2 linked regions of the Homo sapiens genome follow. The protein of the gene in region 1 interacts with the protein of each later gene in a pairwise test. Each region holds a gene or a part of one and is shown on either strand. Other genes may lie near its edges.

Region 1 (5,882 bases):
GCAATGTAGATTATTCTTTTGAGAAATCTTTTTTTTTTTTTTGAGAAGGAGTCTCACTCTGTCACCCAGGCTAGAGTGCAGTGGCGCAATCTTGGCTCACTGCAAGCTCCGCCTCCTGGGTTCACGCCATTCTCCTGCCTCATCCTCCTGAGTAACTGGGACTACAGGCACCTGCCACCACGCCCGGCTAATTTTTTGTATTTTTAGTAGAGACGGGGTTTCACCTTGTTAGCCAGGATGGTCTCGATCTCCTGACCTCGTGATCCACCCGCCTTGGCCTCCCAAAGTGCTGGGATTACAGGCATGAGCCACCACGCCCGGCCTCTTTTGAGAAATCTTGCAGAAAAGGGAAGGAAATGAGTGAGCAGCAGCTGGACAGGAGATACAGTTTTATGTTTTTAAGATGGAAGAGGCCAGACACAGTGACTCACGCCTGTAATCCCTGCACACCAGGAGGCTGAGGCAGGAGGATCGCTTGAGGCCAGGAGTTTGAGGCCAGCCTGGGCCACATAGCGAGATCCTGTCTCTATAAAAATCAAAAGTAAAATTGGCCAGGCATGGTGTTGCGTGCCTATAGTCCCAGCTACCTAGGAGGCCAAGGTGGGAAGGTGGCTTGAGCCCAGGAGTTGGAGACTGCAGTGAGCCATGATTACACCGCTGCACTCCAGCCTGGGTAACAGAATGAGACCCTGTCTCAAAATAAAAGAAAAAAAGAAAAGAAAAAAATTAAGATGGAAGAAGTAACACTGCATGGAGGCTAAGGAGAAAGATCCAGGAGGCATGGGGACGTTGGTGAGACAAGAGGGAGAGAGAGGACAGCTGCAGAGATGTAGGTGAAGGGGTAGAGTCCAGTGTAGGGTCCGGGGTTTGCCCACCATGGAGGGAAGTGGGCCAGTCACAGTTGGCCTAGGACCCTGTGGAAATTGTCTTTTGTTTGCTTTTATCTTCTCACTGAAATACATATGGTTTTTGTGTGAACTACATTCCTTTTATTTCTTCTTTATATGACAGTCAGGACATTATATTGATTTTTTTTTGAATTTATGTGTGTAAGTAGGTTATATTATCTAGGAATTTTATTTCGGGATGGGAAAAGGGGGCAGTGCAAAAATACTCAATAAAAAAAATAGCCGGGCATGGTGGCTCACAGTGGCTCACACCTGGAATCCCAGCACTTTCGGAGGCTGAGGCAGGTGGATCATTTGAGGTCAGGAGTTCGAGACCAACATGGCCAACATGGTGAAACCCCATCTCTACTAAAAATACAAAAATTAGCCGGGCGTAGTGGCACGTGCCTGTAGTCCCAGCTACTTGGGAGGCTGAGGCCGGAGAATGGCTTGAACCTGGGAGGCGGAGGTTGCAGTGAGCTGAGATCGCACCACTGCACTCCAGCCTGGGCGACAGAGTGAGACCCTGTCTCAAAAAAAAAAAATTGGGTACCGGTCTGACGGGATTGAACTCCCTTGTTGTAGGGCCTCATAGGTCATTGCAAGGCTAGTGAGGTTGGAAAAGTGCAGGAAAAAAGTCACCATTACCCAGGCACTGTGGGGTTGCCCCTCTGGTCCCCATTTTGCCATTGACATAATGGGCGTCAGTCTGACCAGCAAAAGACTAAACTCCCCTTTTCCAGCCCTGCAATTCAAATATCCCAGATGGGGGTAAATCTAGGAAGGCCACCTGGAGGAGGGGAGGAGCAAAATAGTTCGTTTTTAGTACCTATTGTGTCTGCCATGCTGGCAGCTATGTGAAGCTATTTATTTATTTATTTTTATTTATTTGTATTTTTATTGCCTGGGATAGAGTGCAATGATGTGATCTTGGCTCACTGCAACCTCTGCTGCTCGGATTCAAGCAATTCTTGTGCCTCAGACTCCCGAGTAGCTGGGATCACAGGCGTGCACCACCATGCCAGGCTAATATTTTGTATTTTTAGTAGAGATGGGGTTTTGCCATGTTGGTCAGGCTGGTCTCCAACTCCTGACCTCAGGTGATCCGCCCGCCTCGGCCTCCCAAAGTGCTGGCATTACAGGTGTGAGCCACCATGCCCGGCCGATGTGAAGCTATTTATATCCTCACCACAATCTCAAATCAGAGGGGTGAAGTTACTTAGCTAGGGTCACACAGCAAGGAAGCTTTGGAACCCTGGTCTGAGCGATTTCCTGACAGGTCCTGGCAGATGAGGGGAAGGAAGGAGGGGGAGGAGCCCTCTGTGACAGTTGTCCCAGAAAGGGCATAAACAGGATGTGGTGTTGGATGAAACCTTCCTCCTACTGCACAGCCCGCCCCCCTACAGCCCCGGTCCCCACGCCTAGAAGACAGCGGAACTAAGAAAAGAAGAGGCCTGTGGACAGAACAATCATGGTCAGGGGCCAGGGGTTCTATGGGAAGAGCTGGGGCTGGGGTTGGGGCTGGGGCTTGGAGGACACCTGGGCGAAGGTCAGGCTATGGGATGGAGGTCACGGGCCGGGAAGGGGGCCCAACTGTGGTGAACAGCCCGGCTGGAAGAACAGAGAGACAGTGGCTCTGGGTTTAGGCTCAGGAAGTGGATCTCTGCACCTCCTTGAGTGTCCCCCAAGAGTCCCCGTGGAGAAGGCGGGAACCCAGCCTCTGCTCCGCCCCCCAAGCTGAGTGCCCTGGTGAGGGGTATCTACTCTGTGGGAAGGGTGCCTTTTCTCAATGTTCACAAAGGCATCAGATGGGCCGGCGCGATGCTCCTCTTCATTAGTGGATGGAGAAACAGGTTTGGGGAAGGGGTGAGGGCTGAGGCCAGGCCATTTCAGCTCTTCCTGGGTCCCTCCGGCAGTCTGACTCCCTGGTGGTGTGCGAGGTAGACCCAGAGCTAACAGAAAAGCTGAGGAAATTCCGCTTCCGAAAAGAGACAGACAATGCAGCCATCATAAGTGAGTGACATCTTCCCCCACAGAAGGATGGGAGGGCGGTGGTGAGGGCAGATAGGGAGGGCTGGGCTTGTGTCCCCCATGGATCAGGGGGAGTGTCTAATCCCTGTGTGCCACCCCTCCCCAGTGAAGGTGGACAAAGACCGGCAGATGGTGGTGCTGGAGGAAGAATTTCAGGTGATGGGCTGGGGTGATTGGGACTGGGAGGTACAGGGTGAGACTGGGAGAACCAAGTGGTTGGAACTGATATGAAGAGCCTGGCATGGGGGTAGAAAGACCTGGAGATTGGCCGAGCACAGTGGCTCATGCCTGTAATCCCAGCACTTTGGGAGGCCGAGGCAGGTGGATCACCTGAGGTTGGGAGTTCAAGACCAGCCTGGCAAACATGGTGAAACCCCATCTGTACTAAAAATATAAAAAGTTAGCTAGGCATGGTGGTGGGCACCTGTAATCACAGCTACTTGGGAGGCCGAGGCAGGAGAATCGCTGGAACCCGGGAGATGGAGGCTGTAGTGAGCCGAGATTGTGCCACTACACTTCAGTCTGAACCACAGAGCAAGACTCTGTCTCAAAAACAAAAACAAAAAACAAAAAAACAAAAAACCCTGGAGATCAAGTTCTAGCTCACTCATGACCCCCAGCAAGAGACTTTGCCTGTTTGTGTCTCTATTTCCTCATCTGTGAAATGGGGAGAATAGTACTTATCTCATAGGCTTGTTTTTACATCCAGTGATTTAATTCTTGTAATGGGTTTAGAACAAGGCCTGGCACTTAGTATGTGCTCAATAAGGTGATGATGATCTTAATAATGATGATAATAATGCTTTATTGGCATTTAAATGAAAGAGTTTCCATATAAGTTAAAAAGCTAGCCAGGCATGGTGGCTCATGCCTGTAATCCCAGCGCTTTGGGAGGCTGAGGCAGGAGGATCACTTGAGCCCAGGAGTTTAAGACCAGCCTGGGCAACATGGTAACACCCTAACTCTACTAAAAATACAAAAATTAGCCAAGCACAGTGGTGTGCACCTGTGATCTCAGCTACACAGGAGGCTGAGGTGGGAGGGTTGCTTGAGGCTGGGAGTTTTGAGACCAACCTGGGCAACAAAGCAAGACCCCATCTCGGCTGGGTGCCGTGGCTCACGCCTGTAATCTCAGCACTTTGGGAGGCTGAGGCGGGCGGATCACAAGGTCAGGAGATCGAGACCATCCTGGCTAACATGGTGAAACCCCGTCTCTACTAAAAATTCAAAAAATTAGCTGGGTGTGGTGGCGGGTGCCTGTAGTCCCAGCTACTCGGGAGGCTGAGGCAGGAGAATGGCGTGAACCCCGGAGGCGGAGCTTGCAGTGAGCCAAGATCGTGCCACTGCACTCCAGCCTGGGCGACAGACTCTGTCTCAAAAAAAAAAAAAAAAAAAAAAAGACTCCATCTCTACAAAAAAAAAAAAGGGGGTAGACCTCACCCCCCTGGTGGCCTCACTGTCTTTATCAATAACAAGAATGATAATAAGGCTTATTTCTCTAGTGTTGCGATAAGGATTTATAAGGGAATCCATGGAGACTGGGGGCTGGGGCTCTCTCAGGCCCTCTGAAAGGCAGTATAGTGAAGCAGTTATGATTCGAACCCAGATTCAAATCTCAACTCTGCTGCTTTCTATCTGTGCAATCTTGGGCAAATGCCTTAACACCTCTGGGCCTCAGTTTTCTCAGCTGTATAGTGGGCATAATGATGGGACCTACCCCACAGACTTACGGGATAGTTGCATGAATTAATCCATGTGTGTTTCATAGAACGATGCCTTGGCACATGGTAAGTGCTCACCTAAAGGTGGTCATTCTTTTTTTTTTTTTTTTTTTTGAGACGGAGTTTCGATCTTTTTTGCTCAGGCTGGAGTGCTATGGCACAATCTTGATTCACTGCAACCTCCGCCTCCCGGGTTCAAGCAATTCTCCTGCCTCAGCCTCCTGAACACGCCTGGCTAATTTTTTTGTTGGAAATGGAGTCTCACTCTGTCTCCCAGGCTGGAGTGCAGTGGCGCGATCTCGGCTCACTGCAACCTCTGCATCCCGGATTCAAGCAATTCTCCTGCCTCAGCCTCTCGAGTAGCTGGGACTACAGGTGCATGCCACCATGCCTGGCTAATTTTCTGTATTTTTAGTAGAGACGGGTTTCACCCTGTTAGCCAGGATGGTCTGAATGATTTCCTGACCTTGTGATCCGCCTGCCTCGGCCTCCCAAAGTGCTGGGATTACAGGTGTGAGCCACTGCGCCCTGCCTCATTCTTTGTCTTTTCTTCTGTTTTCTTGCCTCAGAACATTTCCCCAGAGGAGCTCAAAATGGAGTTGCCGGAGAGACAGCCCAGGTATCCTGGGGGAAGAAAGGGTTGGATCAGGCCATGAGGGGAGGGGTGATGTTGGAGGTATAGGCTAAGGGACTGCTGGAGTTCCAGCCCTATTCATGGACTTTGAATCTCTGTGTTTGGCCGAGTGAGGTGGCTCATCCCTGTAATCCCAGCACTTTGGGAGGTCAAGGAGGGTGGATCACTTGAGGTCAGGAGTTCAAGACTAGCCTGACCAACATGGTGAAATCCCGTCTCTACTAAAAATACAAAAATTAACTGGGCGTGGTGGCATGTGACTGTAATCCCAGCTACTTGGGAGGCTGAGGCACGAGAATCGCTTGAACCTGGCAGGCAGAGGCTGCAGTGAGCTGAGATCACACCACTGCACTCCAGCCTGGGTGACACAGCGAGACTCTATCTCAAAAAAAAAAAAAAAAAAAAGAATCTCTGTGTTTGAGGCCAAGAGTTCATACTCTAGAACTTTTTGTTTGTATAGCAATATTTTATTGCAGAATTTTATACCGATTATTTATGATACCGGTTTAAGAGTCTTTTTTTTTTTTTTGTACAAACTTTGTTGAGTTTTTGTTTCAACATTACGCTGGCATCATTTTTTAAAAATGAAATTTTGGCCAGGTACTATGA
Region 2 (4,513 bases), on another chromosome or scaffold:
TTCTCTTTTTTATGTAGGCAGACACATGTTTAGAGGAATGTTGATTTACCATCTACCTGTGTTGGAAGCCTGTTCATTTTGGGATTTTATGATTGAAAACAGCAGCGGTGTGTGTTTCCTGCCTTCTGCCAGGATCATCTTATATTGGAAGCTGTTAGGAAAGGGTTGCTTTTCAAAATTGGTGCACATTACCCACAAACTCAGAAAGCTACCTAAATCATTAAGACTAGAAATCTCAGTAGTCCAGGCATCTGGTGAGATACCTGCGGGCACTTCTTACTCGTGGCTAGGAGCCGGAGTTGAGTGGGTGGCAGGAGGCTGGAGGCCAGGCTGGGTAAGTCCAAGCTATGTTTCAGGGTATCACATGGTTAAGTGCAAGAAACAGGATGCGGTGTCATTTCTTCCTGGGTATGTTGGGTGAGGGCAAGAACTTTGCAAACCCTAGGAGAGGATTATATTTTCAACAAGTCAAGTGATTTATATACAGTGTCAGTTTTTGTTGGCAATATCCTTTCAGTTATTTGTTTGTTCATTTTTTTTTGGCTATATGAGGTGTGAGCTCCCTCACGAAGCCTGAAGGATTGATAAATTTCACCTGTGATCTAAAAACTTAGGAAAGATTCCCACTAGTGAAACCAAGTCACCAGCCAAGTAGATCATCCGTAAGAAAGCCTGAAATCTGCCTATGTTTCTGAAAAGTTAAGGTGGTCAGTGGTCAGGGGACAGGACAGGACTTCTGAGTCTGTATTCATTAACGGGTCACGTTGCACACCCTCAAGCATTGGTATTTCCTAGAAAAGTTGTGGCTGCCATGACATTCTAGCATAGCTTGCTTTCCATTGTAGACTCAGTGTCTCATGTCCTTTGACTTTCTTTTTTGTCTGTCTGTCTGTCTGTCCTTGGTCTCCCCATCCCTCTCATTCTGTCTCATTGTCTTGCTGAAATTTGATGTCCCAGCCGCCCTTATGGCCAAACTGAAACTTTATGTAACAGATGGTAACATCTTCAGCACACTCTATGTGTTGTTTTTGGCCAACATTTTAATTGCCACCGTTCTTCATGCCCTTCTGAGTTCTTTTTCCATTTCCACTGACCAGATTGGGGTTTAGGGAGATTCCTCTGCTCCCTTGCTTTGGACATAGTGAATGTGGAGCCGGGGCACAGTTCACCCTCCTGGGAAGTGACCTTTAGGATTTGTGTGTGTGTGTTCCATAGGGGGTGGGTAGACAACACTGACAGATTGGGTACTAGTTTTCTGCTCTGTTTCCCACCCTCGTGGTATTAACACTATTCTTTCACTGTCCTTTCCCCAAAGGCCCCAGTAACAATGCCACTGGCCAGTCCCGGGCCATGATTGCTGCAGCTGCTCGGCGCAGGGACTCAAGCCACAACGAGTTGTATTATGAAGAGGCCGAACATGAACGGCGAGTAAAGAAGCGGAAAGCAAGGTATACTGCCCTCCTGATGCCAGTACCCTCTTACAGACTTTTAAATTTTTATTTTATTTATTTATTTATTTATTTATTTAGAGACAGAATCTCACTCTGTTGCCCAGGCTGGAGTGCAGTGGCAAGATCTTGGCTCACTGTCACCTCTGCCTCCCAGGTTCCAGTGATTCTCATGCCTCAGCCTCCCAAATAGCTGCGATCACAGGCGCCCACCACCACGCCCGGCTAATATTTGGTATTTTTAGTAGAGATGGGGTTTCGCTATGTTGGCCAGACTGGTCTCAAACTCCTGACCTCGAGTGATGTGCCTGTCTCAGCCTCCCAAAGTACTGTGATTACAGGCATGAGCCACCATGCCCGGCCTCTTGTAGACTTTCAATCTTTCCTTTCTTACCACTAGAATGAGGTTTCTGTTTAAAAACATGACCTGCTGGGACACCTTTGGAGTGCACCTTGCTCCAGTGTTTCTCAAACTGAAGCCTGTATGAATATCACTGGGAGGGCTGTTCAAATACAGGCAGCAGGTTCTGGGCCCTGCTTGCAGAGACCCTACCCAATAGGTGTGGAGTTGGGCCCAAGAAATGGCATTTCTAACAGATTCCTGCGTGATGCTGATGCTCCTGGCCCCCAGCCCATACTTGAGTGGGTCTGTTCTGCACCCCTGGACCCTTGCTGGTGTTCACCGTCAGGTCATATTCACTGAAGGGGACAGAGGTGCATTCCATCATGTGTGCTGTGCCTCTTCCTGTTTCCCAGGGGCTGCTGGTGTGGGTGGCTGGACCAGGGAGCACGCAGCTCTGCTTCTTTGTAGGGCTGCTTCTGCACCACCAGCCACCTCTCTCTGTACAGAGCCTTTTATAGCCAGTCGGAGGGGCCTCAGAACTCTTTTCATCTAACCATTGCAGAGATGAAAAAAGGACTAGTGCATTTCCCAAGCTCATTGGTGGCAGAATTCAGAACAGAGTTCATCTCCCAGTCCTGGGGCTCCTTTCCCCCAACCCCTGGGGCCCCTGTTCCACATGTTATTTTTGCTGTTGCCTTTCTTTCTCCCTTCCTCCCTCTCCACTCTCTGAGGGACAGCTAAGGATGCAAGCAGCGTGATTGGGCCTTGGGTATGTTGGCAGGTTGGGCCGCAGCAGGGTAGACAAGCGTCATTCTGTTCTCACACCCTGTGGCAGGCACCATCCTGATTACTTAGTGTTGCATCACCTTCTAGGCTGGTGGTTGCAGTGGAAGAGGCCTTCATCCACATTCAGCGTCTCCAGGCTGAGGAGCAGCAGAAAGCCCCAGGGGAGGTGATGGACCCTAGGGAGGCCGCCCAGGCCATTTTCCCCTCCATGGCCAGGGCTCTCCAGAAGTACCTGCGCATCACCCGGCAGCAGAACTACCACAGCATGGAGAGCATCCTGCAGCACCTGGCCTTCTGCATCACCAACGGCATGACCCCCAAGGTGCGCTGCTCCGGGCGGGCTCTGCCACCGTCATCCTGGCTTGTCACTGAGCTTGGCCAGTTGAATTATAGCGTGTTACTAGAAGTGATAAAATCGAAAGGCATCTCTAAAACTCAAGTAATAAGAATTAGTGATTCTCACTTATTTTATGTTATGTTAGTACAATTGTTTTTTTAAATGTGCCTTTCGAAGGCCTCTGGATTCTAACAGAGGAGAGAATTTCGCTTGGAGGACAGTATGGAATAGTGATTGGAGACAGTATGGAATAGTGATTAGGGGTGCATTGTGGACTCTGGAGCTGAACTGATTCATTCTAACCTGGCTCCTCCACCAACTAGATGCATAACCTTGGGCAGATGGCAATAGCTCTGTGCCTCAGTTTCCTAACCTGTTAATTGGTTAGGATAATACTAATAACTATCTCATTTGTATGTTTTGGGAACTGAAAGAGCAGGATACACATATAGTGCAACATATAAACAGAGGTCCTTATAAAAAACAGCTACCAAATGTTACACGTGTACCACATGCCAAGCTCATCTACTCTCTACCATGCGATTTACATGCCTTGTTGCCATATTCAATGTAATTCTTACACAACAACCCTGTCAGAGAGATATTATTATTATCCTCATTGATACAACAGCAAACAAGTGTAGAGGAACTGAAACAGTTAATTCATGTGAAGTGCTTGAAACAGTACCTGTCATATGATGAGGATGGACTAAATAGCTCTATTTATTGGTAAAAAATAGAATGGCGTGAACCCAGGAGGCAGAGCTTGCAGTGAGCCAAGATCGCACCACTGCACTCCAGCCTGGGCGACAGAGCGAGACTCCGTCCAAAAAAAAAAAAAAAAAAAATGCCATCAGGCATTTTGGGTGTTACAGAATTAGTTTTACTGAGTGGTCTTTTAGATTATGATATTTAGGACACTTTAAGAAGTGTTACAAGAAACAGCCATGTATCTAATAGAGAGTTGTGGCCAAGGAGGCAAACTAGAGTAAAGATACAGCAAATGACTTCTCTACAGAGAAGTGGGTTCAAATCCTGGCTCCACCACTTAATTGTTTTGTGACTGTGCACAAATTACTCTACCCTCTATTAGATATATGGCTGTTTCTTGTAATATCCCTAAAAGTGTGCTAAATACTGTAATCTAAAAGACCGTTTGGTAAAACTGACTCTGTAACACCCAAAATGCCTGACAAAGCCATAGCATTATTTTTACCAATAATAATAATAGCAATTTAGTCTGGCCTCTTCATATGACAGGTACTGTTTTAAGCACATCACGTGAATTAACTCTTTCAGTTCCTCTACACTTGTTTACTGTTGTATCAATGAGGATAATAATAATATCTCTCTGACAGGGTTGTTGTGTAAGAATTACATTGAATATGGCAACAAGGCATGTAAATCGCATGGTAGAGAGTAGATGAGCTTGGCATGTGGTACATGTGTAACATTTGGTAGCTGTTTTTTTATAAGGACTTCTGTTTATATGTTGCACTATATGTGTATCCTGCTGGTTACATTGTCAACCAATAACTACCCTTAGGAAAGCAATGTAGAAATAGTAAGAAACCAAAAAGTTTTCTGTATTGATTCACT

Evidence for each region.
Region 2: the proteins of GMFG (region 1) and VANGL1 interact in a two-hybrid assay, tested with the Homo sapiens proteins (one large-scale study listed by BioGRID and IntAct).

What each region holds. Positions count from the first base shown.
Region 1 is NC_000019.10:39,332,453-39,338,334, reverse strand, and holds the start of GMFG (glia maturation factor gamma), read left to right. Parts: upstream 1-2,291; 5' UTR 2,292-2,358; coding exon 2,359-2,361; intron 2,362-2,780; exon of another isoform or gene 2,781-2,803; coding exon 2,804-2,900; intron 2,901-3,024; coding exon 3,025-3,074; intron 3,075-5,208; coding exon 5,209-5,258; intron 5,259-5,882.
Region 2 is NC_000001.11:115,682,629-115,687,141, forward strand, and holds part of VANGL1 (vang-like protein 1), read left to right. Parts: intron 1-1,315; coding exon 1,316-1,448; intron 1,449-2,664; coding exon 2,665-2,899; intron 2,900-4,513.